Regions from separate parts of the Homo sapiens genome. Here regions 2 and 3 are each linked to region 1. Evidence: fine-mapped expression QTL. A gene starts in region 1. Each other region holds a variant in brackets. All regions are shown on one strand. Distances are between the middles of the regions. Region 1 holds the start of SCNN1D (sodium channel epithelial 1 subunit delta). Region 2 holds the start of ACAP3 (ArfGAP with coiled-coil, ankyrin repeat and PH domains 3). Region 3 holds the start of AGRN (agrin).

Region 1 (10,295 bases):
CTCCCAACCTCAGGTGATCCGCCCGCCTTAGCCTCCCGAAGTGCTAGGATTACAGGCGTGAGCCACCGTGCCCGGCCCAGAAGCCCCATCTTTCTCTGCCAGCTCCTGGAACTCAGATCCGGGGCCGTGGTGGGCTCCCAGCACTCCCTCCCTTCCCTGGCTGACAGACACTGGGTGGGGACCTCAGCTCCCAGATCCAGTGTCTCTCGGGACCAGCCGCCCAGCCATTGGGACAGGTGCTAATGTGGGAACACCAAGGGTCTGGGTGTGGAGAAGGCACCTGCTCCCCCGAGTAGGCACAGGGGCTCGCCCTCCCTGCTGGACACTATAGCTGCCACCAACCACACCACACACTAAGATGACGCGCCACACACTAAGACTTTCAGTCCACACCCACACCACACACACCAAGATGCTGGCACACATGGAAGTGACTCACGACCACCAGGCGCGGTGGCTCACGCCTGTAATCTCAGCACTTTGGGAGGCCGAGGCGGGCGGATCACAAGGTCAGGAGTTTGAGACCATCCTGCCTAACACGGTGAAACCCCGTCTCTACTAAAAATACAAAAAATTAGGTGGGCGCGGTGGCAGGCACCTGTAGTCCCAGCTACTGGGGAGGCTGAGGCAGGAGAATGGTGTGAACCCAGGAGGCGGAGCTTGCAGTGAGCCGAGATCGTGCCACTGCACTCCAGCCTGGGCGACAGAGCAAGACTCCGTCTCAAAAAAAAAAAAAAGAAAGTGATTCACAACACACTAAGACCCCACACATGCTAAGACCACACACGTATGCTAATACCTCACACACGCTACGACCTCACACACACTAAGACCACACACGCTAAGACCTCACACATGCTAAGACCACATGCTACTGTCAGGGTCCAAATCACAGTCTCCCAGGCTGGCGTCTTCAGCCCCAGTGCGGTTGTGTGGAAGGCAGGTGTCCCTGTCCCCCAGGACCACCCCATCCCTGTCTACTGTGGGACCCTAGATATCCAGGTGGCCTCACTGTCCCAAATGACCAGACCCGAGCCGGGCCCAGGTTGGAAGGGTAGGCTCTGTGTTCCTGACATCCTGCCCCAAGTGGTGCTGGGTCCCTGGGCTTGGCTGGGGGAGCCCAGCCCCACAGGGTCCAGCAGCAGAGCCATGGCTCTGAGGAGGGTGAGGTCACCTGCCTGCCGGCTCTGGAAGGAAGCAGCTGCCACCGGTGACGTCCTGGAGAGGAAAGCCATGCTGGAGTCACCCAGGCCTGTGTGAATCACAGCTTCGTCACTGGCTGTGTGGCCTTCCCGAGTTACTCAACCTCTCTGAGCTGATTTCCTTGAGTGCCAGATGGGGCTGGGGTGCCTCTCCAAGCTCGCGGCAGGGGGCTTGCTGATGTCACAGAGACCCCACAGGTCAGCGGCAGGGCCCCCGGACACAGCACAGGCCTGGGGCTTCTCCCCCACCACATCTGGGCAGCTTTGTGCGTGGGCCGCACCTGCCGAGGAGACAGGGCACACATGGCCCGGGCGGCTACTTGGCAGGCGGGGACAAGGTCCTAGGTGCTTGCCAGAGATTGTGGCTGGAAGCAGCCTGTGCCTCCCTGTGTCCCCGGGAGTGGCCTGGCAGACAGCCCAGCCTTGGTGCAGGGTGCAGAGAGAGAAAGAGCCCAGGTCCGGCCAGTGGGGCCCGGTCCAGCCAAAGGGCAGCTTGCAGGAGCAAGGCCCCCGGCTTCCTGTAGGAGGGGGAGCCCTGGCCGGGGGCAGAGCACCCCTTCCATGACCCGTATGCCCTGCAGGGCCTCAGTCAGAGCACATCTCGGCTGGATCACGCAGCTCCCGGCTCCACCCCCCTCCCCTCCTCCCGGGCAAGGCCTCTAAGGGCTGAGGTTCAGTCACCTGTCCCACACCCCTGTATCGGGCCAGAGAGTAGGCAGAGGGGGTAGCCACAGAGCACATGTCCAGCACTGGTGAATCCACATGGTCCTCCCCCTCTTCTGGGCCATCCCCTCGCTGGCCCGGTGCAGGGGGTGGGGTGGGGCGAACCCAGCTCCCGGCATGTGGGGGTCCTGTGGTCACTGCACCATGACCAGGTGAGCCTGAATGAGAGAAGGGACGGGCAGGCATCCCTGGCTCCCTTTGGGCCCATGCCTCTGCTCTCTCCCAGGAAAGACGGCCAGGCCCCATTGACCGAGCATGGCTGTGAGCTCACCTCCTTGGGCCGCTGAGGTGGCCGGGCCACAGGTAACGAGGGAGCGGTGTTGTCTTCTGTGACAGCACTGCCCTGGAGATGGCAGGCGCCTGGCATCTGTGGGACCCCAGCCAGGACCTCCTATCCCAGAGCCCCGTTTCCTCCCCTGGGGTGAGCGTCCCCCACTCAGGGTCACTCTGAGTCAGCCCTGGGACGGTTCTGGTGCAATAGACAGGCAGCCCAAGGTCGGGATTCCCGTGGGCATGGGCAGGCCAGGGGTGGCCTGGGGTCCCTCTGGGGTCCTGCACCCAGGCAGGTGAACAGCCTCCCAGGCAGAGCCCCCTCGGCCCCGGGCATCAACTGCACTGTCCAGTGGAGCCTCCGCAGAACAGGCACTAAGGTGGCACCAAGGTGCCCCCGGCTGCTGGCCTGGGTGGGTGCTGAGGGTGGGAGTGTGGAGCTTGGGGTCTGGCCGGTGTCCCCTGCTGGGAGGAGTAAGGTGCGTGTGGGCTGCCTTCTAGGTTCCCTCATAAACCAAAAATAAAATTATAAGCCCTGAACTGTCTGGATGGACCCCTGGTCTTAGCCATGGGCATTCCAAAGTTAACCTGAAAAACTAGCTCAGCTGTGATGGGAAGGGAGTCGGACGCACCTCATGCCTCCTCCCTGCTGGAATTCAGGCACAGCATCAGCATCACCTCAGGCCTTGAGTCTGATGAGAAGCATTTATAGTTGATTCTCTCTGAGGCTTGTGACCTGGTGGCTTCATCTGCGATAAGACCTTCATCTGCACAACGCCATACTGTAACCAGACATTCCCTTCTACTGATAACAACTCTTTTTTTTTTTTATTTATTGAGATGGAGTCTCGCTGTCGCCCAGGCTGGAGGGCAGTGGCGCGATCTCGGCTCACTGCAGGCTCCGCCCCCCGGGTTCACGCCATTCTCCTGCCTCAGCCTCCTGAGTACCTGGGACTACAGGCGCCCGCCACCACGTCTGGCTAATTTTCTGTATTTTTAGTAGAGACGGGGTTTCACCGTGTTAGCCAGGATGGTCTCGATCTCCTGACCTCGTGATCCGCCCACCTCGGCCTCCCAAAGTGCTGGGATTACAGGCATAAGCCACTGCGCCCAGCCTAATTTTTGTATATTTTTTTAGTAGAGATGGGGTTTCACCATATTGGCCAGGCTGGTCTTGATCTCTTGACCTGGTGATCCGCCTGCCTCGGCCTCCCAAAGTGCTGAGATTACGGGTGTGAACCACTGCGCCCGGCCACCTTTTTCTTAAGACAAGGAGAACGACTCCCTTTTGGGTACCCCATTTGGTTTCTAGCTCGGACGTGCGTTCCTAAGGGTCTTCTCTGTTGCTTTTTCTCCCAAAATTAAGCCCAACTGGCTTGTGCGTGCATTTGCATGAGGAACTGAATTGTTCTTTGCATAGATAAATGAGAGACTGAGTTTTCTCAGCTCCAGAAAGAAAGGCATTTTGCTCCTCCCAGCTGAAAGGCGCCCCTGGGTGACTGTGAGCCAAGTGGGAGTATCTCGTGGGCTGATCCCCCACGACGTGCAGCAGCCCCACAGGGAACCCCCCAACACAATTAGTTTAAAAAGGTTTGTCTGCTGGGTGCAGTGGCTCACGCCTGTAATCCCAGCACTTTGGGAGGCCGAGGCGGGTGGATCACGAGGTCAGGTGATCGAGACCATCCTGGCTAACACGGTGAAACCTCGTCTCTGCTAAAAACACAAAAAATTAGCCGGGCATTGTGGCGGGAGCCTGTAGTCCCAGCTACTTGGGAGGCTGAGGCGGGAGAATGGCGTGAACCCGGGAGGCAGAGCTTGCAGTGAGCCGAGATCGTGCCACTGCACTCCAGCCTGGGCGACAGAGCGAGACTCCGTCTCAAAAAAAAAAAAAAAAAAAAGGTTTGTCCAGGAAATGCACATAGGAGCTGGTCACTCTGTGTTTTGAGTCCTCTCGGAGGTGTTGGACTTCTAGAGAGAGAAACAGAGACACGTAAGAGGGCGAAGATGCCTCAGTGGTGACACACTGGGGAGTCCCGCCCACGACCCGTCCACGACCGGCACACTCAACCTGCTCCACGGAACCCCATTCCACAGCTCGGTTCCTCTGCGCCCCACCTGCTCCACGGAACCCCAGTTCCTCCATACTCAACCTGCTCCACGGAACCCCAGGCCACAGCTCAGTTCCTCCGCGCCCCACCTGCTCCATGGAACCCCAGGCCACAGCTCGGTTCCTTTCAAGAAAAAAAAAAGTGGGAAATAAATAATGTAAGCCTCAGCAAAGACAAGAGGGCGACCTCCTTCCAGGCACCCCGCTGGTTTCAGGCGCCTCTACCTGCAAGTGTTGGTATAAAACTGAACATGTCGCGGGCATGCTGGGTTTCCTAGTGCCCCAGCTGGTTCCATATTATGGTCTTTTGGGGCACATTTTAAACTGATGGGCAAATTCCATCCAGGAAAAATTCAGAGCCCAAAGGTCAGCCTGCAACTACAGAACCATAGAGTTCCTGGCCAGGCGCAGTGGCTCACGCCTGTAATCCCAGCACTTTTGGAGGCCAAGGCGGGCGGATCACCTGAGGTCAGGAGTTCGAGACCAGCCTGACCGACAGAGTGAAACCCCATCACTACTAAAAATACAAAAATGAGCCGAGCGTGGTGGCATGCACCTGTAATCCCAGCTACTTGGGAGGCTTAGGCAGGAGAATAGCTTGAATCTAGAAGGCGGAGGTTGCAGTGAGCTGAGATCGTGCCATTGCACCCCAGCCAGGGCTGCAAGAACAAAACTCTGTTTCAAAAAAAAAAAAAAAAAAGAACTATAGAGTTCCTAAGTTCTCTATCTCTCTGTTTCCTTTGCTGCCTGCCTTAAAGCTGCTGTTACACTTTTTGTTTTTTTTAGGTAGAGTCTCACTGTGTTGCCCAGGCTAGAGTGCAGGGGTGCGATCTCGGCGCACTGCAAACTCTGCCTCCTGGGTTCAAACGATTCTCCTGCCTCAGCCTTCCAAGTAGCCAGGATTACAGGTGTGCGCCACCACGCCTGGCTAGTTTTTGTAAATTTAGTAGAGACGTGGTTTCACCATGTTGGCCAGGCTGGTCTTGAACTCCTGGCCTGAGGCAATCCACTCACCTTGGCCTCCCAAAGTGCTGGGATTACAGTTGTGAGCCACCGTGCCTGACCAGCTGTTACTTTTCTACTGAGATGACATCCACAGTTTGCATCTAGATGTTTCTTTCTGTTATTGTTTTTCTAACTAGTGACTTTGTGTTGATATGTCATGGTTAGAGGTGTAAAGCAAAAGCTGTAGGGTTTTTGGATGAGTGTATATGTGTGTTTAGATGTGTTTATGTGTACGTGCGTGGATTCTGATACATGTTTTGTGGCCACAAGGTATCAAAGTGGCTTAAGGAGTATGCATACATTTAGTACATAATAACAAATTTCATGTGACTTAAGTAAAAAATTTTTTTTTTTTTGAGACGGAGTCTCGCTCTGTCCCCCAGGCTGGAGTGCGGTGGTGCGATCTGGGCTCACTGCAAGCTCTGCCTTCTGGGTTCAGGCCATTCTCCTGCCTCAGCCTCCCGAGTAGCTGGGACTACAGGCGCCCGCTACCACGCCCGGCTAATTTTTTGTATATTTTAGTAGAGACGGGGTTTCACCATGTTAGCCAGGACGGTCTCCATCTCCTGACCTCGTGATGTACCTGCCTCGGCCTCCCAAAGTGCTGGGATTACAGGCGTGAGCCACCGTGCCCGGCCAAAAGTATTGGTAAAGTAATATAAGGAGTGTCTTAAAAACTGTCAGCATACATTTTTGTTTGCATTTATTGATTTATAAGGGGTCAAAACTTGGCATAAGCATTGTAAAACTCTAAACCCAGCTGAAGGCCAGGCATGGGGACTCACACCTGTAATCCCAGAACTTTGGGAGGCCGAGGCAGGTAGATCACCTGAGATCAGGAATTGGAGACCAGCCTGGCCAACATGGCAAAACCCCGTCTCTACTGAAAAATACAAAAATTAGCCAGGTGTGGTAGCACATGCCTGTAATCCCAGCTACTTGGGAAGCTGAGGCCGGAGAATCACTTGGACCTGGGAGGGGGAGGTTGCAGTGAGCCGAGATTGCACCATCGCACTCCAGCCTGGGCGACAGAGTGAGACTCCATCTAAAAAAAAAAAAATTATAGGAAAACGTTCTTTCTACAAAAATTCTTATTATAAGGTAAATAATTTTGTCTAATTCAAAGCTTATTTAAAGTTTATGTATAAAATGAGTTAAAAAGAACAAGGAAATAAGAGAGACCAAGGAAAGTTATAGATATAAAGAGGTCTTTTTGTTAAGTAAGGTTAAAAAAAATAATTTTATATGAGAAAGAATCTTGTATGGTAAATTTTTGTCCTTAAATAAATGACTGGTTGTTTAAAAAAAGGGATGTTCAGCACAAACTAGAAAGTCCACATGTCGTGAACGGTCTGTGTAAGCTGCAATACCTTTGGTAAAAAAGGAATTTATAAAAATGTTACATGATAGATCGGGTGTGGTGGCTCATGCCTGCAATCCCAACACTTTGGGAGGCCAAGGAGGGCGGATCACTTGAGGTCAGGAGTTCAAGACCAGCCTGGCCAACATGGTGAAACCCTGTCTCTACAAAAATATAAAAATTAGCCAGGCATGGTGGTGCATGCCTGTAGTTCCAGCTGCTCAGGAGGCTGGGGCAGGAGACTCAATGGAACCTGGGAGGCGGAGGTTGCAGTGAGCCGAGATCATGCCACTGTACTCCAGCCTGGGCGACAGAGTGAGACTCCAACTTTAAAAAAAAAAATTGTTTTAAGAGGTAATGAATGCTGGTCCATGTCCATTCCTATCTGGCCTACAAAATTTAATGGGCTGTAAATCTTTTAACTGTAAGTCCCTGGGTCATAGGGAGTCAAACTGAGGGACAGGATTGACTGAGGGTGGGCAGCCACACTCGCCCAGCAACGCTGAGACACAATAAAGATTTGGTGGACATGGATGTTGCCTCTGGCAAATCTTGGCCAGAAGGGGGTGAATGTAAACCAAAAATTAAATTCTAAGGCCCCCCCAGCCGTCCAAATGGACCCTTCCTCTCAGCCAAGGGCGTTCCAGTGTTAACCTGGGAACTTGTTCAGGCCATGGCGGGAAGGGGTCGTGGGTCATGCCTCCTCCCTTTTGAAATTCAGGAAAAGCTGACTAGCATTAACATCAACACAGGCCTTAAGTCTGATAGGAAACATTAACAATCTATTCTCTCTGAAGCCGGCAACCCGAGGCTTCAGCTGCGTGGAAAACCACAACCCCTTACTGCAACCCAGACATTCCTTTCTATTGATAATAACTCTTTCAACCACTGTCGGTCAGGATCATTTTGAATCTGCCTATAACATAGAGGTCTCCCCACACCACCCCAATTTATCCTGCTCTTTCAGATTGAACCCGTGTAAATAAATCATGTCTCCCTAAAATGTATAAAAGCGAGCTGTGCCACATGCACCTTGGGCACCTCCCGAGATGTCATGGGTGTGTCCTTAACCTTGGCAAAACAAACTTTCTAAAGGGACTGAGACCTTCCTCAGTTTGCACCCTCCAGGCTGGGTTCTCTGTCCCTCAAGCATCCCCTGGCCAGACAATCCCTGCTGTTCAGAGGCAGCCAAGGCTTTCTGGTCCAACCCTGGGGGCTGGAGGAGGTGGGGGCAGGAGGTGGTAACTGGGTTGGGGGATGTTTTCTTGGTTGCCAAAGCAGAGGGTGCCCCCCGCTGCTCAAGATGCTGAGGGTGGTCCCTGTTGTCCTATTCCTGAAGCTGCCAGAGGAAGTCCCTCCGGAGGGCTGGCCCACAGCAGAAGGGCTGCTCCTGCCCTCAGAGGGCAATCTCAGGGTTGAGAAGGTTACAGCCACCATCTGCCACCAACCTAGCTGCTTGTGCCGATCCCACTGGCCAAGGCCATCGGCTCTATGGCTAGAGGCCTGGGCAGCCTGTGTCCTGCTTACCAGAAGGCCACAGATGCGGGTGGGTGGGGTGGTGGGGTCTTGGCAAGACGTGCTGGCCACACCTGTCCGGGGCACCTTCTCCCTGGGGTGTGACTCAGCCATGCTCCTGAGCAGGGGCCTCTGAGTTGAGCCTCGCTGCAGTCTTCCCAGCTGCAGGGCCCCCACAGGTGTGCTGTCATCGCACACTACTGAGGGACAGACAAGGCAGAGCGGGCCTCCATCTGCCGCGGGCCACAGCCGTGAGTGTGCATGCGAGTGGATGTGCTGGTGCCTGTATCTGCGGCCGGTGTGGCTTCCCTCACATAACTTTCCATGCTGTGAAAACAGTTTGGCCTGCCCTGCATGGGAACGGCAGAGGCCTGAGAGGAGGCAGAGGAAGGAGGCTGGATGCTGAGATGTTCTCCGAAGGTGGAGCCGGTGACGGCAGTAATGGAGGCAGGCTGGATTCCCACGGGCTGAGGCTGCGTGGACACTCCTCCTGGCTTCTGCCCCACGGCCTGCAGCAACGTCTCAGACCCACCAAGGTGTCCCAGAGGGCCAGAGTCAGGGCTGAGCATGGACACAGCCTGCCCTCTGCCCGTAGCCACAGCGGGACTGACCCTCAATATTCAGCCACCTTGCTGACCTGTGGTTGTTCCTGAGAGGCAGTCAGGGTTGGGGCAAAGGAGAGGGCCACAGGCAGCCAGGTGGCGAGGTCCACCTCCTGATCCCCCACCAGGGGACCACCCTCAGCTCCCCGCTGTCCTCAGCGGCCTCTCAGGGAGGCGGTGGGCTGCGCGCCTGCCCCCAGCGTCCCACCCCAGCGCCCCGCCACCTACCGCTCTCTCCCAATGTGTCTGGGGTCAGAGAGAGGTGGAGAGGACGCAGCGCCCCGCGCTTTCTGCAGTCTGTCCAAGGGGAGGTCAGGGGCATCCCGGGGCTGGGCAGGCACCTGCAGGGGAGGGTGCTGCGGCGCGGACGTGGGTTGCAAAGAGATGCCACGCGTGTCACTCTCGGGTCCCTGAACGAGAGAGCTCTGAGCTCCCTGGAGCCCAACCCTCCACTGAGCCTCCAGGGGCCCGGGACGCTCCATGCCCGGGCCGCGCCGCGCCTCCCCTAAGGGCCGGGTGGGGCGTGGGAGCGGAGGACAAGGCGGGAGCCGGGAGGCGGGAGGGTCGGGGTTCTTTCTCCACCGGGGTCGCCCTCAGCCGGGCCTGCCGCCCTGGGCCGTGGCACATGGGGAGGGAAGCGCGCGGCTTCGGGGTCTGGGGCTCTCGCGCCCACTAACGGTGCCCGGAGCCGCCCGCCAGTGCGCAAGCGCCGCCCCGCCCCCCGCCCCATCCCCCACCCCGGGGTCGACGGCGACAGAGAGTCGTGGGCGCGGTCCGCCAGTCTGCCTAGAGCGGCCAGCCCTCCCCCTCCCTCCTCACCGCCCCGGACCGCGCACCGGAAGCAGAAGCTAGGCTGGTTCCGCCCCGCGAGCGGCCATCTTGGAGGCTGAGGCGGCGGCGGCGGCGCTGCGGCGGGTTCGGTGGGCCCAATCCCGGGGCGGTGCGGCTGTTTCGGGCGCGGGCCCCGCTTTTCCGCACCCTGCTCCGGCCTCGACTACGGCGAGCCTGAGCGCGGCGGCGGCCCACGCGCAGCGACAGGGAGAGGTGAGCGCGCTCGCAGGCCTGCGCCGGGTCCTCGGGCCCGCTCGTCCCCCCTGCCGGAGCCGGCCACAGCGGCGGCCCGGGGCTGCTGGGGACCCTGCGCGACGCTTCTCCGTTCGCGCCCGCCGCCCGCGGGGCCCCGGCCCGAGCCTGCCTGCGCGGAACCCGAGGTCGGTTACGGCGGGCTCCCGGAGCTCCGGGTCAGGGTCATGTCGGGGACTTGACCACTCGGCCGGGTTTCCCGTCAGCTGGGACACTTGCAGCTGCCCCAGGACGGGCAGCCTCGATCCTGGTTCGTCAGTGGATCACGGGAGTCTGTGTCGGGGGAGGGCTGCCGTCGAGCCCGCCGTCGCCTCGCCCCTGAACTGTTAGACTCCAGACTGCCCCGTAAACCCCGAGAGAAACGAGCGTGCCCGGGACTGTGCTTAGGGCCAGCGTTTCTGGGAAACCCGGGCGGTGACAGTGGGAGA
Region 2 (10,295 bases), 28 kb before region 1:
GGTTCCCGTACAGCACTGACTTGAGGAATAAGCCGTGGGCTGGGGCTACACGTGTCTGGTGCTTGCCCAGGGGATCTTGGCTCTCCAGAATCGTCTTCACCTGGGCAGGTGCCAAAGCCCCCAGCCCCACGGCCACCAGCACAGCCGTCATCCTCCGTACCTGTGACCCAGAGCCACCTGTGACCCAGAGCCGCCCGTGACCCACCAGCACAGCCGTCATCCTCCGTACCTGTGACCCAGAGCCGCCCGTGACCCACCAGCACAGCCGTCATCCTCCGTACCTGTGACCCAGAGCCGCCCACGACCCAGAGCCAAGACTGCACAGGGGCCTGCCCACCCTCAGCCCCACCCCCTGGGGACGGCCCCAGAACAGAGCCTACCTGTCTATACAGGAAAGACTGGCTCTCAAACTCCAGGTTCCAGAACCGCAGCTTCCTGGAAAAATACGTACCTGTAGGTGTCTGTGGGGCAGTGTTTGCCATCCTCAGCCTACTATGTGGCCTTGGACGGGAGAGTGACAGGGTGGGCCTAAAGACGAGCCTGGTTCCCACTAGCTTGGCCACCAGGGGCCCTGGCTGATCTCCTGCCCCCAGTGAGGCCCATTGGAGGGGCTTAAAACCAGAGAAACAATGCTTGGGCAAGGAGGCAGCAGGACCCTGGAGGCTGGGCAGGTAGCCTGGCCATCCCAGAGGGGCTTGCCCTGGGCCCTCACCTAGGGTCCTGGTGCAGGGTCTGGGAACGTGGCTGGTGCGGGTGCCAGAGACCCCCAGTCCTGTACCTGCTGCTCTGCCACAGAAGTCTGGGGCTGGCAGAAGTTCTTCCCCCCTTCAGGGCTCACCCCAATAGGGGAGGTTCTGGTCAGAAGCTGCCACCTGGTGGGTGGCCCTCGGGACAGTGCTGGGGGCAGCAGAAACCACCCCACCAGAACCACTGGCACCAGTGAGACCTTTCCAGTAGCTGCCAACATTCTTCCATCAGGCATGGCAGGGGTTTTTCAGAGACAAGCAGCCTTCCCTGTTCTCCGCTCCCCAGCCTGGGGGGAGGGCACAGCTGGAGGCTGGGGGGCGTCCGGGCGAATCCCCTCCAGCTGTCCAGGTCCTGAGGACTCCCGGCTGCCTGCCTCCCGCCTCACCTTGCCTTAAAACTGGGGGAGGTGCTGGAGCTAAAATCAGCACGTGACTTGAGGGCAGGGCCACAGCCCAGGGGCCCTTCCTCACCTGCTCTCCTCGGGGGTGACCAAGGGGCTGGCTTGGCCTGGGGAAACGGAGACCCGGCGCAGCGTTCGCACGGGGCTCGGCACCGGGCTGCCAGCGGACTGGAAGGCGCTGAAGTCGTGTGTGCCGAGGAGGTGCTGGGCGGCTTCCTGCATGGCGACCATATCCAGGCAGCTTCAGGGACCAGGGTGACCGTCAGGAGGGTGGGGCCGGCCTGCCCGCCCCCTCCCCGCTGTCAGGGCCACACTCACTCTGCCGGGAGAGTCCAGCATAGGTTGCGTTCAAACACCGGCAGCTCATCACGCCGGTGACAGCCAGTGGCCAGGCGGTACAGGTAGGTCCGGGACGTGGCTGCGTGACGAGCGTGGAAGTCGCTGGGCACTCGGAAGGCCCGCAGGACCCTATGGCGGCAGGTAAAGCTCACCGGAGGAACGACCCCGCCCGCCCGCGGTGTCACATTGGCTCTCCTTCCCCCTCGAGCTCCGACCAGACAAGGAAGTCTGTCCAGATCTCCAGCCTCCGCCCGCGACAGATGGAGTCGGGAAGGCACAGCCCCAGGGCTGCTTAGGTCGCGGGCTCACCTGATGGCCGGGTGCCGCAGGTGTGTGTTGAGGGCCTCGGCCAGGACCTCGGGCGGGAAGGGCGGCCGGCCTGAGCGGCGCTGGACGTCCAGGTGCGCCGCGTTGCTCAGGGCGTGGACCCCGGCGTCCGTGCGGCTGGAGATGGTGAACCTGACCGGCTCCACGGAATTCAGCCGCTCGGCGGCCTCCTGCAGGACCGAGCCGCGGGGCGGGCGGGTGAGCGAGGCCGGACCCCGGGGACGCGCGGGCGGGAGCCTCCCCCTTACCCCTCACCGGGCGTCCCGTGACCGGCTGAGCGCACCTCCAGGTAGTTCTGGACCCCGACGGCGCGCTGAGTGCCCCTGACGGCCGCGACCCCGCTGCGGGCAGAAGCGGGCGGAGGTTACCGGGGGCGCCCTGCCCTGGGGTCTCCGCCGCCGTCTGAGGCCAGGGCCGCTTCCTTCCCCGAACGTTTGGAACCCGCGTCCAGAGACATCCGCCTGCCCGCCCGCGCCCTCCTTCCCGCCTCCGCCCGGGCCCACGTGGCGCCCGCCGCTGCGCCTGGGAAACCTACTTAAAGTCGGTGCCCACGTACTGGAAGTACACAAGATAGCGCGCGCGCACGGAGCCTGAGGCCGGCGCCGAACTCATGGCGGAGCCCAGCCGGTGGCGTCAGAGGCGGCCTCCAGCGCAGGAATCCTGCGCGCGCGCGGACGCGGCCTGGTCACGCCCCCCCCCCCTCCCCCCCGGCCCCGGCCGCTCTTGCGCCTGCGCGGTGGCACCGCGCCACGGCGGCCAGAGTCGGGGAGCGGAGGCGGGGCCGGGCTTAGGGAGCGGCTGCAAAGTGCCGGCCCGCCGCCGAGCGCAGGCGCTCTACCTCTATCGCGGCGCCCCGGGAGGCGCGCACCAACCACGCGGTCACCCCGCGCTCTCGCGGGCGTGCATTCGTTCACTCGCTCATTCATTCGCCGCCGCCCACACTCCCCGAGCGCGCCCGTTCGCCGCGTTGCGGCCAAGTCCTCCCAGACGTGGTTTTTGCAAACGCCCTGAGTTGCGCAACGGCCGGGATGGTTGGAGCGGGCGGGCCCGCGCCCTCCCCGCGCCCTCCCCGCGCCCCACATTTCCACCGACTGTCCCCGGAGACGGCCGTGGCAGGCCCCGCCTCACTTCCGGACCGGGGTGGTCCCTGGACGCTGCGAGAGGCGTTTGGCGACGCTCCCCGGCGGTGACAGCGGGCGGCGCGCGCGGGCGGCGGACCTTGGCGACGCTCCCCGGCAGTGACAGCGGGCGGTGCGCGCGGGCGGCTGACTTTGGCGACGCTCCCCGGCGGTGACAGGCGGGGCGGGGCGCGGCGCGGCGGCCTCATTCCGGGGCGGGCGGGCGCCGAGGCGGCGCGGGCGGGACGAGCGGTCCGGGCCGGCGCGGCTGCCGCTCGGCGCCGCGGTCCTCGTGCCAGTGAGCGCCGCGGCCGCCGCAGCCATGACCGTGGAGTTCGAGGAGTGCGTCAAGGACTCCCCGCGCTTCAGGTGCGCCGCCCGGGGCCGCCGGGGTGGGCGCAGGCCGGGGGCGTCGCTGTCGCCTTTGTGCCCGGCGGCGGGGTGGGGAGGTCAGCGCCGGGCCGGGCCGCGGCCGCCGGGGAGGGGCTGGAGGACCGGCCTCGGACAAAGCGGCGGCCCCGCCCCGCCATGCCCCGGGGGTTGGAACAAAAGACGCTCCTGCCCTGTGCGGCCGCCCCGGGTGGAGGGCGTGCGCGTGGGCAGCCGTGGGCACCTCGGGACCGTCCGCCCCCGCTCTGTGTCTGCACCTCCACTGGGCTGAGCCCCTCCCGGGCCCTGCAGTCCAGCTCTGGCCAGGGTCGTCTGGGTCCGTGGGGGCGTCGGCCCCTGGTCTCTGACTTGATCCTGTGTCCAGAGCAGCGCGTGGGGAACAGGCAGCTGGAGCCGCGTTTAAGGCCTGGGGTAGGGTGCTTGGAAACGTGAAGTGGTTTGAATGACCCAGGGGCTTGGAGGGGTGGCGGCCGAGAAGAGCGGCGGGGAAGGTCAGGTAGGGGGTAGGGGTTGTGTGCACACCGAGTCTGCATGTTTTCCATCATTCGTGGCGTGCAGGCGTGTACACCTGCGTGAACTACATGTTCACAGACGTGTGCACAAGTGTGCATCGGCTTTGCTTGGTGGACATTTGGCAAACGACAATGGAGGCAAAGAAACCTCTCTGCATCCCCAAGTGCGCACCTGCGTGAGGCCCCCTCCTCTGCACGAGCTCGTGCGGGGTGCGCTCTTGTGAACTTTGCCCCTCTGCGTGCCTCCCTCCGGACACCAGGCCTTGCACAGGACGTGTGGATGAGCTGTGCCACGGGGCTGTGCTTGCTTCTGCATGTAGCCTGCCGATGAGTGCACGCAAGCGTGTGCACACACCACCTGTCTGTGTGGGTTCACGTACTGTGTTAGCCATGTCAGCAATAGACACATCACCTTGTACACGCGTGTTCCATCACTAGGTACACATGTTGATGCGTGTCTGTGCAGTGTCTCCTTGAACACACATGTATGTGTGGTACCAGTGTGTGCAGGCATGTTTGTGCATGAACATGTTTGCACATGTGTGCTTGATTGTGTATGTGTGGGTGTGCACGCGCGCGCTGGGTCTCTTGGGATCTGCTGGCAAGTCAGCATGTGTGTGGAGGCACGGGGAGCCTCTGTATCCCTGGAGCCCTCACCAGGAGGCTCAGGAGCCTTGGAGTGGGAGGCTCAGGGCCAGCCAGGAGAGTGGCCGCCAGCCCTGGGCAGAGGAACTGGGGCCATCCTCTGCTCTCCCATCTTCTGTTGCTGACCTGGGAAAAGGGGTTGAATAACTTGAGCACCCTAGGATCCTGCATTGAGGACCCGGGCTGTGGGGAGGTGTGGGCATGGCCTCCCTGCTGGGGGCTGG[A/G]CCCTGGCTGAAGCACCCACCTTCTCCCTGGCCCCTCCGTCAGAAGCCTAATGGACCTCCTCCTCCACGCAGACGGCCCTGTACTGCCCTCTTCCAGTCGTGTGGGGGTGCTGGAACCCACTCACCTCTGGGCCTTCTCTCTGGTAACCGGCTCTCATGGGAGCCTGTTACAGGAGCCAGTTATGGGGGCTGTGGGGCTGCAGTAGGTGCCGTAGAGTGACTGCCCTGGGAAAGTGCCTCACCCCTGTGGGGCATGGACTGGAGTGGGGAGATGAGAATGGCCTGGCCCAGTGGGTTTTGGGGTTAGGCTGTGATTTAACTGGGGTTCGAGGGGCTCCCTGAGGCTGTCCTGGGGGCAGGCCCTAAGGGCGTAACTTGAGTTTCCTGGCCTACCGCCAGGTTGGGGGGCCAGGCAGGGTGGGCGGGAAGATGTGGTCTGTAACGTGGAGCCTGGTCGCCCCAGCCCGGGAGAGGGGGACCCTGCCCGCACCCTCCTGGTCTGGGGAGGGCCTAGTGGCAGCCCAGGTGCAGTGGGCCGGAGGCCAGGGGAGCCCGTGTAGGGGAACCGCCTGGCCTCTGTTCAGTGTGCCCCTCCCCTGGGTGGGGCTTCAGGCGCTGAGTCATGGCTTTGGTTGGGGGGCAGCCTCACCCTCCTCCCCGTCCTCCAAGCTGCTGAGGAAATCCTGGGCTGAGCACAGCAGAGGAGGCCTAGGTCCCCAGGACTGAGGAAGGGAGAGCTGAGGGGCTCCCAGCAGTGGGAGCGGCTCTCGGGGCCTCTGCCAGGGCCCACCCTGTCCCCATGAGCACGTCCGTGAGCTCCTGGGTGCAGCCATCCCCCCTTGCTGGCTCTCCAGGGACACGGGCGCCCCAAACCCGAGGGCGGCAGCTCTGGGTGCAGCTGTCTCTGCATCCGGCCCTGCTCAGGGGTGGCTGCAACTCCTGGGGTGTGGCGCTCTCTGCTGCCTTCTCCTGGGAGGATGGTCCCTTCTCTGTTCTGGGATCCTCCAGCTGAGGTAGAGGTCAGGGTCCAGGGGCTGCAGGCTGGGCACTGGCGGTCAGCGGACACCACAGCGAGATTCCCTCCATCGCCCCCTGCTTCGGGATTCAGAGTCCTCTTAGCCCCTTGGGAACAAGAGAGGGCTGCTCAGAGAGGACCTAGTGTCCTTCTGGGGTGGCTGGGACCCTTCAAGGTCCCTGGCTGGGGCAGCCTGGTGCCTGCAGCTCCAGCTCCTAATTGAGGACACGCCCCATGTAAACCACAGGCCCCTCCCCCGAGGCCTGGGACACCGGTCAGGGTAGCAAGGTACGAGGGACTGTAGGCCCTGATGGCCTCTGCTCCTGGACCCCTGCCCTAGACCTGGAGTCCTGGCCCCAGCCCGGGCCCTGTGGTGCCCAATCCCCAGGAGGCCAGATGGCCCGGACAGCCAGTGAGCCGATTGTGTGGAGGGCTGCCGGGATCCTGGCCCTGTTTCCCTGTTGCCTGCTCCCGGAGGGGGTGGTCACGTGCCCGATCCATCTGCCTCCTGTCTTCCGGGGATTCTCCCGCCGAGGCTTCTCTGGTGATGTCATGCCTTAACTCTTCTCTCCCCAGGCAGCCCCACTGTCAGGCTGTCCTGGTGGGAGTGGGCTCTGAGGAGGATGGCCTACCCGTCTTTCCAGCGGACCATGCCGCTTGCAGCTGTGAGGTTGGGGGAGCCGGGGGCGTCTCTCCCCAGCTGGTCTGGGTCCTCCTGGTGCTGCCAGGACCGAGAGCAGCTGCCCTACTGCCCCCACCCTGTCCCACAGTGCATGGGTGCCAGACCTGGATGGGCTGCAGTAGTGCAGTGGGGTGAGGGGAGGTGCCGCAGGGTTGAGGGGCTCCAGATGGGTCCAGGGTTGACTCTGAACTCCTAGAGGAGAGGCGGGTGAGGCTGGCTCAGCCCTTGGTGGGCACTGTCCCTGAGGGACTCCCAGCGGCCGGCTGTCCTGGGAGAGGCTGGTCCAGCCTTCTTCCCCGAGGGCACAGCAGCGGCTGCCTCTGCCTGCCTGGGGTTGGGGGGGCGGGGGGAAGTGCACTGAACCTGGTCCCAGTCCTGCCCCCGTAGCAGGCAGGCGTCTGTCTCCCAGCCTGTTTCCTGAAAGCCCCTTCCCATGGTGGAGCCCCTCAGGGAGGTGCGGGGGGAGGTGAAGCCCCGAGGGGGCTGAGGCTGCAGGTGACCCCAGCCAGCCCCGTTCTTGCTTTAGGGCGACCATTGACGAGGTGGAGACGGACGTGGTGGAGATTGAGGCCAAACTGGACAAGGTGAAGGGCGGGCCTGGAGCGCCCTGTGCCCGGCCAAGCTTGGGATGGCCACATGGCCAGACTCGCCCTCCAGGCCTTACTAAGCCACTTACACCCCCCATATGTGGAGCATGCGTGTGGTGCTCCAGGTCCTGGTCCCTGTGTCTTAGCATGTGTGTTCCAGGGTGCACATGTCACATGCACACATGTGGCTGGCCCTGAGTCTCGTCCCATCTGGGAGGGGCTGGGCTGTGGTGAGTCCCCGACCCACGGTGGCTGCCCGTCCCCTCTGCTGGGCTGGTGACACGGGGACAGCTGCTGTGTGGGCTGAGCCTTGGTGTGGCTGGGGCTGGGGCTGAGAAAGGGGAGGGGGCAACAGGCCGTGGAGGGGGGAGCCGTGTCCATGAGCCCCACATGGGCTGAGAAAGAGGGGGCAACAGGCCGTGGAGAGGGGAGCCGTGTCCATGAGCCCCACATGGGCTGAGAAAGAGGAGGGGGCAACAGGCCGTGGAGCTGGGAGTGGGCAGCCTTATCCATGAGCCCCACATGGGCTGGTTCTGCTGGTCCTGCTGGCCCTGGGTCCCCTGCCTGGCTCCTGGTCCCTCCCAGCCGAGCCGTGGCGGCCCCACCCTCCCCTCCCAGACGGGCCTCCAAGCCCCAGGCAGGCCCAGGCGTGAGGAAGCTGCACCGGGGCACTGAGTCCTGAGTGCCAACGCCCTGAGTGGAACCTACCCTGGGAGCTCTTCCTGCCTCTGAGTGGCCGTGTGTGGTGGCGAGTGCAGGCGCCAGTGCCCACTGTGCTCACCACGCCCCGCTGGCCCACAGCTGGTGAAGCTGTGCAGTGGCATGGTGGAAGCCGGTAAGGCCTACGTCAGCACCAGCAGGCTTTTCGTGAGCGGCGTCCGCGACCTGTCCCAGCAGTGCCAGGGCGACACCGTCATCTCGGTGAGGGGCCGACTGACCTCTGACCTCAAGGTGGGGTTGGGGGAGAGGCCGAGGGAGGCAGCCCCTTGAGGGCGTCCAGGCCAGAAGCAGGCCGGTGTCTGCACCGCCCAGGGGCTCAGAGGGCGTGGCTGGGTGACCTGGGCCCGGATTTGCCATCTCAGCACGGGTTCCCATCTGCTCCTCCAGGAATGTCTGCAGAGGTTCGCTGACAGCCTACAGGAGGTGGTGAACTACCACATGGTGAGCGCGGCCTCCCTGCCACCTGTGGGCTGTGCCTGGCCTGGAACCGAGCTGCGCTGGCTCACCTGAAGGCCGGCGTCGGGTTGGGGGGGGCACGTTTCTGCTCCTCTAGTCGGGGGGGGGGGGAATCCCACATTTTCAAGTCAGTGTGGGGTTGGGGGACAGCCCTGGGGGCTCTGCCGTGTCCCAGGCAAGGGCCACACTAGACCCTGGGGGAGGGGTGGTTTATCCAGGGTTCCCCCAACTGGGCAGGGCTCTCGTCCCAGGCTGGCCTGGCTGCCATTTGGGTCTGGGTGGCCCCCGGGGGCCCTGGCACTGACGTGGATGGACACACAGGACAGGCACCCGTGAGATGTGGGGCTGCAGCCTGGGAACCTGAGCCGCAGACTGAACAGAGGAGGTCCCGAAGTAGACAAGGCAGGATGGCTCAGCCGTCCCTTTGCTCCTGGTTGTGCCCGGTCCTTCTCTACTTCGGGTTCCGATTCAGAGCCCAGGCTCCAGCTCCCCAGGCCCAGCCCCTGGGTGCTCCCGGCTCTGGCTGAGTGCTCCCTGCTGCAGGGATGGGCACCCCAGGGTGGCCGCCCAGGGCCAGGAGGCAGTGGGGCTCCGGCTCAGGCTGTGATGAGGCAGCCTTGGCCTCTGCACTCATCAAGGGCCAGGTGGGACAGAGGGGCAGGGGTGACAGCCATCGCCTCTGAGTGCCAACTCAGGCCTGGGGGCTGCTCCCCTGACCCCCTTGAGGCCAGCCCTGCAGGGTGGGACCCGCCCCTGCATCTGGGCCTGGGGGCAGTGCCCTCTGCTGGTGAGGATGGGGCCTTCCATCTGGGGCTCTTTCGGGACAGACCCCAAGGATCTCTGCCCGCCTCTGCCCCCAGATCCTGTTTGACCAGGCCCAGAGGTCCGTGCGGCAGCAGCTCCAGAGCTTTGTCAAAGAGTGAGTGGCCCCCAGGGCTGGGGGAAGAACACTGAGGCCACGCTCCCTCCCTTGGAGGGGAAGGGGGTCTGGGGCAGAGCAGAGGCACCTTGGGCCCAGGCCTCCAGGCTGTGCAGCGGCTCCACAAGGCAGAAGGCTCAGAGGCAGACAGCCGGGTGGAGTGCGGGGGGTTCCACACCCTGCATGTGTGGGTGGGGTGTCCAGCCCCCACAGCAGAGAGGTCCAGTCCACGTTGGGTTTGGGGGTCTGGAGTCTGGGGCATGGCTGGGGTCTGGGCTGGACAGATCTTGAGAGTGAGGTGGGGAGGGGCTGGGGAGGCCTGGAGCAGATGATCGGGGTCAGCAGGGGTGCGGGCAGGCCTGGGATAGGCTGGTGAGGAAGGAGGCTATGCCCAGGAGCAAAGAAAGGGCCTGGAGTGGAGGGGGGTGGGGCTGGGCATGGTGGCTCACACCTGTAATCCCAGCGTTTGGGAGGCCAAGGCCAGAGAATGCCAGGAGTTTGAGACCAGCCTGGGCAACGTAATGAGACCTCCATCTCTACAAAAAAAAAAAAAAAAAAAAATTAGATGGGCATGGTGGCACGTGCCTATGGTCCCAGCTATTCAGGAGGATGAGGTGGGAGGATCAGTTGAGCCCAGGAGGCGGAGGCAGCAGTGAGCCATGATTGTGCTACTGCACTCCAGCCTGGGTGACAGAGAGAGACTCCATCAAAAAAAAAAAAAAAAAAAAAGACACCCCCAAGAACCAAAAATAAGCCTTATATGGTGGCACGCACCTGTAGCCTCAGCTACTTGGGAGGCCGAGGTGGGAGAATTGCTTGAGCCTGGGAGGTAGAGGCTGCAGTGAGCCATAACTGTGCCACTGCACTCCAGCCTCCAGCCTGGGCAACAGAGACAGACCCTGTCTCAAACAAACAAAACCAGGCCAGGCGCAGTGGCTCACGCCTGTAATCCCAGCACGTTGGGAGACCGAGGTGGGTGAATCACCTGAGGTCGGGAGTTCAAGACCAGCCTGACCAACCTGGAGAAACCCCATCTCTACTAAAAATACAAAATTAGGCCTGGTGGCGCATGCCTGTAATCCCAGCTGCTAGGGAAGCTGAGGCAGGAGAATCACTTGAACTCGCGAGGCAGAGATTGCGGTGAGCCGAGACAGCACCATTGCACTCCAGCCTGGGTGACAAGAGCGAAACTCCGTCTCAAAAAACAAAAAACA
Region 3 (10,295 bases), 260 kb after region 1:
CCATCTGGGCAGGGGTGGGCATCTGTGTCAGTCTCGAGGTCCCGCAGGCATGTGAGGGACTGTGACCCAGGACCCTCTCCTGTCCTCACTGCCGCCCCAAGGGACCCAGCATGCCTTCATCTCAAACCTTCAGAAACCACACTGGTCATCTCAGAGGCAGCACCTGCAGAAGGTCCTGGGCCCTTTGCCAGACACGGGGCAGCGTGCTGGACGCAGTGAGCAGGGGGCAGGAGAGTGGACAACCAACAGCAAGCTGAGGCGAGACACGTGCACGAGGACAGAGGAAGAGCCCAGCTCCGAGGCCCCCTGGACAGGCCAGGGTCACCCACCACCAGCCTCACACCTGCAGCACCAGCCCGGGCTGAACCCAGGGACATAGGGTGGTAAGAACCATGGCCCACTAGTGGAGGCTCCAGGCAGAATTCTGAAGTGCACAGGCTGGTACATCTGAGGCTGCAGGCACGTGCACACACATGCGTGTACACACACACACAAACACATGCACACACGCAGGCCACACAGCTGGAAACAGCCGGCTGCCTGTAGGACACAGCACGCCCCTTCTCCCACGCCTCTGCTCCGTGGGGGGACTGCAGGAGGAGGGGGCTGGGAGGGGCCGTCTCCCTTTCCCAGGTCCTGCTGTGAGCTGCCCCTGGCAGGGGGCCTTCCTCAGAGGAAGTTCCCAGGATCTGTGCTGGGGGGAGAGGCCCCTTCGGGGGGGCTTCCCTCAGTGCTGCAGGCTCCGCTAGAGACCTGCCTCATTCCCTAGATCCCAGCCACAATCTTGCCACAGCCTGAGGGGCGCACAGGACTGCTCTGAGCCCCAGTGCAGCTCCCAGCAGCTCACCCAGCAGGCAGGAGGTGCAGGGGTACAGAGCCTCCTCCTCCAGCGGGCGACTGTCCATGGGGTGATATCTCAGCCCTGCACTTCCTTTTTCTCATCTCTGAGGGGCAGGCACCTCCTGGGACCCCGGGGTTCCATCCTGAGGTGGGCAGGCCACCACGGTGTTTCCGTCTGCAGCCCCAGCCCCGCTGGGCTTCGGGGGCCCTGGGGAGCCCAGTCCAAGTGGGGAGGGGGTGCCAGAACCAGGACTGCAGGGAGGGGGTCCGTTCCTGCCCCACCCAGGCCGCTGGTGGGGCTGTGGACCTGGGTCCCACAGGTGGAAGCAAAGCCCTGGGCGTGGGGCGTCTGCTTCTGCAGTTGTTTTCCACCCTCCTGCAGTGATGGGGGCAGAGTCAGCCCTTCAGGAAGGAAGCTGCATGGGCCTGGCTGGAATGACCTCTGGCCGGACCTGTGGCCCCGAGGCACGGGCACCCCCTTCCCTGGAGCAGCCCCATCCCGCCTTCTGCAGGCTGTGGGGCTAATGATTCCCTCTCCTGATCTTGCAGGGACAGGAACCTGTCCTCACCCTAACCTCCTTCTCCCCTACCTTGGCCTGGAGGCTGCAGCAGGTGCCATCCCCACCACCACCCACAGAGGCCCCACCAGAGCGGCCAGTGTGGACAAGCGGGAGCGAGCCCAGTTCCAAAACAACCTTCCCTCTCTAGTCTGCAGGAACAATGGAGCCAGGGCTGTTCTCTGGGTGGGGAGTGAGGGAGTGGGGTGGGGTCTGGAAAAAGCCAAGAGTTCCTTCCACCAGCTCAGCCCGGCCCTCTCAAAGAGGTCATCTCCACAGAACTGACCAACCCGATTCCCCTACCCCTCCCACCACCTCACTCCCTTTGGTTTCAGCCAGCAAAGCCCCCCCCCAGGCCAAGGCAGGGGCAAGCCCAGGAGAAGTCAAAGACGGGACAAGTCCATTCACGCAGGCGGGAAGCACCGAGCCCCGACTTCCCACCAGGAGCCCCGGGGTTGGGATGGACAGAGGTGGGCCCTTCACCCGGCAGACCCCCCTCCCAGCTCCAGGAGAAACAGAGGTGGGGCCCCAACTTCCTACCAGGAGCCCCTGGGTGGGGAGACACAGAGGTGAGTGGGGAGGGACAGAGGTAGGCCCTCCGCCCTCCCACCCGGCAGACCCCCTCCCAGCTGCAGGAGGGAGATTGGGGCAGCAGCCTCGAGCCCAGACCTGCCTGGGGGAGGGCCAGAGAGGGGCTCATGGGGTGGGGGTGGGGGAACCAGGGGGCAGGATGAGAACCTGGAGTCAGGAGGGGGCAGGAGAGGGTGGCAGGAATGCGGAGGAGTTGGGGGCAGGAGCTGAGCCCTGGGCAGGAGAGGGGGCTGGCCCCAGCCCTATGGGAGGTCCTCCTGCATCCCAGAAACCTCCCCCAACTCCTAGACTGCCCCACACTGAGGGGAGCCTGGTCTGGGGCTGTCGGGCCCCTCAACCCCAGCACCGATGCTGTCCCCGGTGCCGTGGGACTCTGGGCTTCCCCTAGGACTGCCGTCCTGAGGCCTAGGCAGCTGGCCAGGCAGGGAGGAAGGGAGGGTGCACACGCCGGAATACAGGCGGGCCCGGGACTAGGCCGCCGGGACCCCGGGCTTCAGAGCTGGGCAGGGCCGGGCTGGGAAGGCGCCAGACTCACTCTGACCCTGGCCCCCTGCCCTGTCCCTGTGCCAGGCCCCGGCAGGGGCAGACAACACTCCCTTTCTCTGCTCCTGGCTCCTAGCAGGGAGGGATGGGCCCCGGGCGGCCTGGCCGGCCCTCAGCCAGGAGTCCCTCCTGGGGGCTTCAGGGAGGCTCTAGGACCAGCCTTTGTGAGGTGGGCTGGGAGGGCATGGGCAGTGCCCAGACAGGACAGGGTGGCGAGGGCCGGAGGAGTCGCCCGCTCAGCCGCCAGCCCTGGGCAGCTGGCACTGCGGAGGCCAGGCCACTTCCCTGACAAAGCAGGGGCGGGGGTCTCCTTCCGGAGGGAGCAGCGGGCCTCCCCCGCCCAAAGGTGGCGCAGAGGGAGGGACACATACCTGTCTTAGTTATGCCAGGAATGTGGCTCCCTAGGCAGAGAAGGGGGGAGGAGCCTTTCTGAGGGTTGTTGACTGGGGGAGGGGCCTTGGCTGGGCAGGGCCAGGAAGATCTGGCAGGGCCAGGTGAGAAACTGAGGAAAGGAAGTCCTCAGTAGAGCTGAGTCCAGGTGTGGCCCAGCAGCAGGTGCACCTCAGGCGGTGTCCGGGCAGGGGTGGTGAGGGGCGTGGCCCTCCCCGACCTGGGGAGCTCGGAGGGGCCTTTGTCTCCAGGATGGGGTTCCCATACAAGGTGGGACCCTGTGGTCTCAGGGGTAGCTTCTGAAGACTAGGGGCTGCCCAGACGCCATCCTGTGCCCTGGGAGGTGGGGTCGGAGTCAGATGGGGAGAGGTCAGCTAGGCTCAAGCTCCCTCCATCCATCCCCCTCACTAGGGTGAGGCCTTGGCTACCAGAGGGCCCAGGGTGGGGTTCAATGTCCTTATCTCCTACAGAGCAGGAGATGGACCCACCTCCCACACCACCCAGTGTGAGGGGAGGGGTGGGCACACAGAATTGTCCCTTCTCCAGCCAGACTGGCTCCAGAGACCTTGTCCCTCAGGGCTCACCCCAGGCTTCTGGGAGGCATTTACCCTGTCCCGGCAGCCAGGGACCCCAGCCACCCGAGATATCCCTGGTCTACTTCCACAGCAGAGCTCCACATGTCCCACCGGAAGCTCCTGGGCTCCCCCACTCCTCATGCTGTTTCCCTCCTGAGGCTCCCCTTGGCCCCTGGCTCACCTGCAAGGCCCCTCCCATGACAGTCCTCCCTGGCTAACCCTCCCCTGGCCAGCCCCACCCCAGGGGGTCCGGTGGCCACAGCCCCTCCCGGGTGCTCCCCAAGCTGCATACTGGCTGTGGGTCCCAGGCTCCCCACCTGGAGCTCGTCCCTGAGTGCGACTGCCCACAGCTGGGCTAAGCCACACCCACCTGGCAGGGGCTCCCCACGGACCCTCCTCCCAGCGCTCTGCTCCGCCTGGGCACTCGCTCCAGAGCCAGTGCCTGGCACCCGTAGAGCGGCTTCGGTAAGATGCAGAGCCTCGTTCAGCCGGGGTGACTCTCCTGCCATGTGCCCTCTGACCCTAGAGCAAGTCCTCAGCTACTAAGTCACGGACTCTCGGGCTGGACCCACCTGGCTGTGGGGTTAGTGACCCCCTCTCCTGATCTTGCAGGGACAGGAACCTCTCCTCGCCCTAACCCCCTTCTCCAGCCCCTCCTCAGCTCCTGACAGCCTATCCTGAGTCCACGATGCCCCCATCTTTTCCCCAGACCATGAGTGCCCAGAAGAGGACCAAGGTTATCATGTCCTCCCAGTGGGGGACCCAGGGGACCCTCCTCTGTGCTGCACTGAGGCCCTGGACCCTGAAGGCAGCTTGGGGACCACTGACCACAGGCTGGGGAAAAGGCCGCAGCGTTCCTTATTTTGGGTGCTGCCCCTCCCCCTGCATAGCCCCCAGGCATGCACAGAGAAGGCAAGAGCAGTGGACAGTCCAGGACCCCACAAGGACCCCTCAAGAGCCAGGCTAGTGTCAGGGCAGCAAAGTTTCCTGCCGGCCAACGGAGCAGATCGGAGAGACGGGAAGTCAGGACCCTTACCGTTGCCTTGAGGAGGAAGCACTCTCCAGACCCCCCCACCGACACATCCCTTCCCAGGCAGCCATGAGGGAGCAGACAGGATGTGGGGGCGACAGGGACCTCCTATATTTTCCCTGCCACATTCCCCAGCCAACGATCTCAGTCCCCAACTGGGACTTGTCCTGCGGGGGCTGCCATGGGATTTCTGCCCCCACCAGGCTGGGGTCAGGGAGGGCCACTCCTCGGCCCTTCGGCAGAGCCATGGGAACAGCAAGCAAGACCTCACGATGGCAAATGCCACACCCTCCACATCCGCAGAAGCCCTCGCCGCACAGCCTCGCCCTCCCGCCCGATCTCCACGGCGAGGAGTGCTCGACACGCGGGCCCGTCTAGACGGAGGTCTGGGCTAACACAGGGGCTTGAACAGCTGGGGACATTCACCTGTCCAGCTTCTCCCTAGAAGGGGCCTCCAGAAGGAAGTATGGAGAGCTGGGAGGAGGGGAGGAGGCAGGAGGCCATCTGTTTGCAGGGCTGGGACTTGCCTTGGGCCCCAGGGCCAAAGATGTCTAATGTGAGGGCTTGGAGATGCAGCTGGGGAGCCAGGGACGGAGAAGCAGAGAATGAGGTTGGACCACAAGACACCGTGTGCTGCAGCCTCCGGCACAGCACGAAAGGACCCCGCACAGCGACCCCTGCAACCTGTCCCCCTTGGCCACTGCCCTGACCCCCACAGGCCCCCACACGAGCCCCCCACCACGCACCTTCCACACAGAACTCCACCTCCTCCAGGTTCCGCAGGGTGATCCGCATGAGGCTGGAGTTGAGCATCAGCTCGTTCTTGTGGGCTGGCCACAGGTATGGGGGTGCAGGGTTCACAAAGAAGATCCTGGTGTCCCCAGTGGACACCTGGTTGTCACAGATGAGGGGGTCTCCAAAGCCGCTGATCACCACCTTGTTGCCGCC[G/A]TCCAGCAGGCTCTCCCGGGCCACCAGGTCTTTGCCCTTCAAGTACCGCCAGACCCGAACCTGGGGTGGACATGGCGGTAGGTGTCATTAGTCCTCTCCTGGGGAAGGGGCTAGACTGGGGGCTTTAGGTGTTTAGGGCAAATGTCCACAGTAGACTCAAGCCCTGGGCAGAGATGTGGGGAGACCTCTGAGTCAGCCCGCTGGGCGGAAGCTGGGGGAAGCCCACACTGGCCACCACAGCCCATGCGGGAACGCTCAGAGATGCGTCACCTGTGAACACATCCCCTCCCCCAGGTCTAACCAACTTCAGCCACCCCAGCTCCAATAACGTCCCTATCAGCTAAGGCCGAATTTGGGAAGGGGGCCCACCTGGCTTGGGGTGCCTGCCTTCCACACTTCTCCCCACCTGCCCAGTGCTCAGGGCCCACCTCCCAGCAAGCTTGGGCAGTGGAGGAGGGGGATGGGGCGTTGGGGTAAGGGGCCAGCTTGGCCCTGTGGCTGGGCTGAGACGCCCCTTCCTCGGGCTTCTACAGTCTGTGCACTCAGGGCAGCCTGTGAACCACGAAATCAAGTTTGGGCAGTGCAGGGTGCCCCACCCTCCACCTTCTCAGCTCCTGGGGCCCTGAGGGCAGCTGCTCTGACGGTGGCCTGTGGTAAAGGCTACAGCCGACCTGGCGGCCCTCACGGGGACAGGGACCCACGCACTCACGCACTCCCCTGAGAACAAAGCCGGGAGAAGCAGCCCCTTCCTCAGATCTGGGGGGCTGGGGCTGCCGGATGGGGGGAGAGACAATGGTTGGCCTGTCCACTGCGCAGCCCCTGCTGGGAGCCTCAGGACTGCGGCATCCGCAGGGACCCCCTCCAGTTGCGCAGGCAGAGCCTCTTCCACGCCCCCCAACAGTAGGCTCCAGGAGGCAGATGACCCAGGCAGGGGGAGGGCCTGGTGGCTTTCATCGCCTTCCCCCACCCCAGCCACACCCAGGAGCAGCGGGGAGGAAGTCGGGAAAATCCTGCAGGGGCCTGGCAAAGTGCCCTGGCCGCTGTGGAGGAGACTGGGCCGGCGGGGGAGCCCAGCTGTAGCCCGCACCGGCCAGTCTGAAAGAAGCTGCCACCTTCTCCACCTCCGTGGAGGGAAATGAGTGGATTTCTGGTCCCAGGAGATGGTTTTGGGGGTACACGGGCGCCGGCTCTGGGTCCCCCGAGCCCCTACTAGGAGAAGATGGTGGGGGTCCCAGCGTACCTACCCCGGGGGCTCCCAGAAGCACCTGAAGGAGAAACCAGGGAAACTTCCCCTCCCCGGGGTGGGGAGCCCCGGTTCCCGCAGGAGCGCGATGGGGCACCGGCCCTGCCCCCAAGCACACGAGGCCCGGTGACGGCCCCGCCCACCTCTCTGCTCCTGCACGCCCCCCCCCCGCACCACTGCGGCACCCCCCACCTGGCTCCCGGGGTTGGGAGCTCAGGCTGTGCGCCCCTTTTTCTCTCCTGACCAACCCCTCTCGCCCCGGGAAAGGCCTCTGGGGAGGGGAACAAGCGGATCCCAGGCCCAGCCCCCGCTCCCCGCCCGGGCAAAGGCCCCCCCTCCCCAGGCCCCTCTCCTTCTCGGCCGGTAGGGAGGGCGCGCGGCAGCCGCAGTCCGTGGGCGAGGTGCACTTGTCTCCGCGAGGAGGGAGGCGGCGGCGGGCGGAGGACGGCGGCGGCGCAGCAACTTTCCCCGGCGCCCGCGAGTTTCCCGGGACCCGGCGACCCCCCCTCCCGGGGCTTGGCGGTCGCCAAGGGAGCCGGAGCGGGGGCTGCGGAGCGACCGGGGCTGGTTCCCACGGCCTGGGGCGGGGGTCCCGGCGGGGCGGCAGGCGTCGCGAGGGGAGGCCGGGGTCCGGGTGGGCGCACCTTGCAGGAGTACGTGTGCTGCACCGGGTCCACGTTGAGGATCTCCTCCACCGTCCCGGTGAGCACCACGTTCGCCTCCTCCTCGCGCCGCTCCAGCGCGCGCTCCGGGCATGTCCCGCCGGCTCCGGGCAGGACGCACGCGGCCACCACAAGGAGCGGCAGCAGCGGCCGCAGCGGGCCCGGGTGGGACCGGCCGGCCATGGCGCAGGCGAGAGGCGGCGGAGGAGCGCGCGGGCCGCGCCGGGGACGGGACTGGACAGGACGGGACGCAGCTCCGGAGGCGGCGGAGCGCGGGCGGGCGGGCGGGGGGGGGCGGGGCCAGGGCGGCGCCCCTCCCCCTCTCTCCTCCCCGCCCCCCTACCCCCTCCCCGCGCCCTCCTCCTCCCCCTCCTCCTTCCTTCCCCCTCCCGCCCCCTCCCTCCTCCCTCCCCCGGCCCGCCCGGAGGCCGGCGACCCGCGCCGCCGCGAACAAAGCCCCGGGACGCAGCGCCCGGCGCGGCCGTGGGGCGGGAAAGGGGCGGCCCGGGAGGGGGCGGGGAGAGGAGAGTGGGGGGCGGGTCTGGATCCCGCAGGCGCCCCTCCCCCGCCGCGGCCCCCCGGAAGTGCGGCTGCACCCGAGTTAATGCCTAATCTGGAGGAGACGTGACGGGACTGCCGAGGGGCTCCGGGCGGCGCGGAGCCGGGCGGCAGGGCTCGAAGGCCGCCGGGAGGGGCCCCAGACCCGGCCCCGATCCCGCTCCGCAGGCCGCGCCCCTCCCCCGCGGGGCCGGACACCGAGGCTCGGCCGGGCCGGACCCCCCGGGAGCTGCGGCGCGGAGGCGGGTCCCGGTGCCGGGGCGGGCGCTGATTGGCCAGCACGGGGCGCGGCCCCGCCCCTCCCGGCCCCGCCCCCCCAGGCCCCGCCGCGGGGAGGTTCGCGCCCCCTTCCGTCCCGCGGCTGCAAGCGCGGGTCCCGCCACGCCCCTTCCCAGCTCTGGGCCGGGCGCCTCTGCAGCTTGGCCTGGCTGGGTGCAGGGGGAAACTGAGGGCTGGAGGACCCAAGTGGGAGCCTGGCCTAGCTGAAGATTGAAAGGAGGGAGCGGAGGCCCCCTTTGTCCCTTCAGAACTGTGTCTAGGCTGGGCGTGGTGACTCACGCCTGTCATCCCAGCACTCTGGGAGGCGGAGGCAGCAAGATCTCTTGACACCGGGTGTTCGAGACTAGCCTGGGCAAAATAGCAAGACCCCATCTCTCAAAAAAATTAAAAATTAGCTGGATGGGCCGGGCGCAGTGGCTCACGCCTGTAATCCCAGCACTTTGGGAGGCTGAGGCAGGTGGATCACGGGAGGTCAGGAGTTCGAGACCAGCCTGGCCAACATGGTGAAACCCCGTCTCTACTAAAAATACAAAAATTGGCCGGTGTGGTGGCAGGCGCCTGTAGTCCTAGCTACTTGGGAGGCTGAGGCAGGAGAATCGCTTGAACCCAGGAGGCGGAGGTTGCAGTGAGCTGAGATGGTGCTGAGAGGTGACAGCGTGCTGGCAGTCCTCACAGCCCTCTCTCGGTCTTCACGCCTCCTCTGCCTGGGCTCCCACTTTGGTGGCACTTGAGGAGCCCTTCAGCCCACCGCTGCACTGTGGGAGCCCCTTTCTGGGCTGGCCAAGGCGGGAGCCGGCTCCCTCAGCTTGCAGGGAGGTGTGGAGGGAGAGGCATGAGCGGGAACCGGGGCTGCGCGCGGCTCTTGCGGGCCAGCTGGAGTTCCGAGTGGGCGTGGGCTTGGTGGGCCCCGCACTTGGAGCAGCCGGCCGGCCCTGCCGGCCCGGAGCAATGAGGGGCTTAGCACCCGGGCCAGCGGCTGCGGAGGGTGTAGTGGGTCCCCCAGCAGTGCCAGCCCACTGGCGCTGCACTCGATTACTCGCCAGGCCTTAGCTGCCTTCCGGCGGGGCAGAGCTGGGGACCTGCAGCCCACCATGCCTGAGCCTCCCACCCCCTCCGTGGGCTCCTGTGCGGCCCAAGCCTCCCCGATGAGCGCTGCCCCCTGCTCCACCGTGCCTAGTCCCATGACCACCCAAGGGCTGAGGAGTGCGGGTGCACAGCGCAGGACTGGCAGGCAGCTCCACTTGCAGCCCCAGTGCGGGATCCACTGGGTGAAGCCAGCTGGGCTCCTGAGTGGTGGAGACGTGGAGAACCTTTATGTCTAGCTCAGGGATTGTAAATACACCAATCAGCACCCTGTGTCTAGCTCAGAGTCTGTGAATGCACCAATAGACAGACACTCTGTATCTAGCTACTCTGGTGGGGCCTTGGAGAACCTTTATGTCTAGCTCAGGGATTGTAAATACACCAATCGGCACTCTGTATCTAGCTCAAGGTTTGTAAATACACCAATCAGCACCCTGTGTCTAGCTCAGGGTTTGTGAATGCGCCAGTGGACACTCTGTATCTAGCTACTCTGGTGAGACCTTGGAGAACATTTATGTCTAGCTCAGGGATTGTAAATACACCAATCGGCACTCTGTATCTAGCTCAAGGTTTGTAAATACACCAATCAGCGCCCTGTGTCTAGCTCAGGGTTTGTGAATGTGCCAGTGGACTCTGTATCTAGCTACTCTGGTGGGGCCTTGGAGAACCTTTGTGTGGATACTCTGTATCTAACTAATCTGGTGGGGACGTGGAGAACCTTTGTGTCTAGCTCAGGGATTGTAAATGCACCAATCAGCGCCCTGTCAAAACAGACCACTAGGCTCTACCCATCAGCAGGATGTGGGTGGGGCCAGATAAGAGAATAAAAGCAGGCTGCCGGTGCTAGCAGTGGCAACCCGGTCAGGTCCCCTTCCACACAGTGGAGGCTTTGTTCTTTCGCTCTTTGCAATAAATCTTGCTACTGCTCACTTTTTGGGTTCACACTGCTTTTATGAGCTGTAACACTCACCGCCAAGGTCTGCAGCTTCACTCCTG

Evidence for each region.
Region 2: its variant is fine-mapped to the expression of SCNN1D in cerebellar hemisphere (GTEx, PIP 0.99).
Region 3: its variant is fine-mapped to the expression of SCNN1D in esophagus mucosa (GTEx, PIP above 0.99).

What each region holds. Positions count from the first base shown.
Region 1 is chr1:1,273,199-1,283,493 of GRCh38, reverse strand. SCNN1D (sodium channel epithelial 1 subunit delta) reads right to left here and starts at 3,058. Exons shown (of 18, transcript NM_001130413.4): 1 at 2,828-3,058; 2 at 2,197-2,268; 3 at 1,884-2,083; 4 at 1,179-1,252. The coding sequence starts at 2,832. LINC01786 (long intergenic non-protein coding RNA 1786) reads right to left here and starts at 9,492. Exons shown (of 3, transcript NR_185846.1): 1 at 9,013-9,492; 2 at 8,195-8,691; 3 at 2,887-4,426. It overlaps UBE2J2 (ubiquitin conjugating enzyme E2 J2), which reads left to right and starts at 9,640. Exons shown (of 7, transcript NM_058167.3): 1 at 9,640-9,828. RefSeq lists silencers at 134-334, 9,006-9,055, 9,216-9,795 and enhancers at 8,156-8,794, 9,985-10,295.
Region 2 is chr1:1,300,774-1,311,068 of GRCh38, reverse strand. It overlaps ACAP3 (ArfGAP with coiled-coil, ankyrin repeat and PH domains 3), which reads left to right and starts at 3,139. Exons shown (of 24, transcript NM_030649.3): 1 at 3,139-3,300; 2 at 6,926-6,983; 3 at 7,788-7,907; 4 at 8,094-8,147; 5 at 9,023-9,081. The coding sequence starts at 3,254. It overlaps PUSL1 (pseudouridine synthase like 1), which reads right to left and starts at 2,472. Exons shown (of 8, transcript NM_153339.3): 1 at 2,349-2,472; 2 at 2,097-2,154; 3 at 1,796-1,983; 4 at 1,466-1,615; 5 at 1,218-1,388; 6 at 381-435; 7 at 1-160. The coding sequence starts at 2,425. SNORD167 (small nucleolar RNA, C/D box 167) reads left to right here and starts at 6,257; the gene lies at 6,257-6,340. RefSeq lists silencers at 1,831-1,960, 1,971-2,110, 2,141-2,210, 2,431-3,110, 3,151-3,320 and 2 more and enhancers at 6,295-6,895, 6,896-7,495, 7,496-8,096, 8,097-8,696, 8,697-9,298. The variant A/G (reference allele first, on the strand shown) is at 4,703.
Region 3 is chr1:1,017,440-1,027,734 of GRCh38, reverse strand. AGRN (agrin) reads right to left here and starts at 7,615. Exons shown (of 36, transcript NM_198576.4): 1 at 7,362-7,615; 2 at 5,273-5,534. The coding sequence starts at 7,562. RefSeq lists enhancers at 2,007-2,982, 2,983-3,959, 5,144-6,343 and a silencer at 7,852-8,301. The variant G/A (reference allele first, on the strand shown) is at 5,475.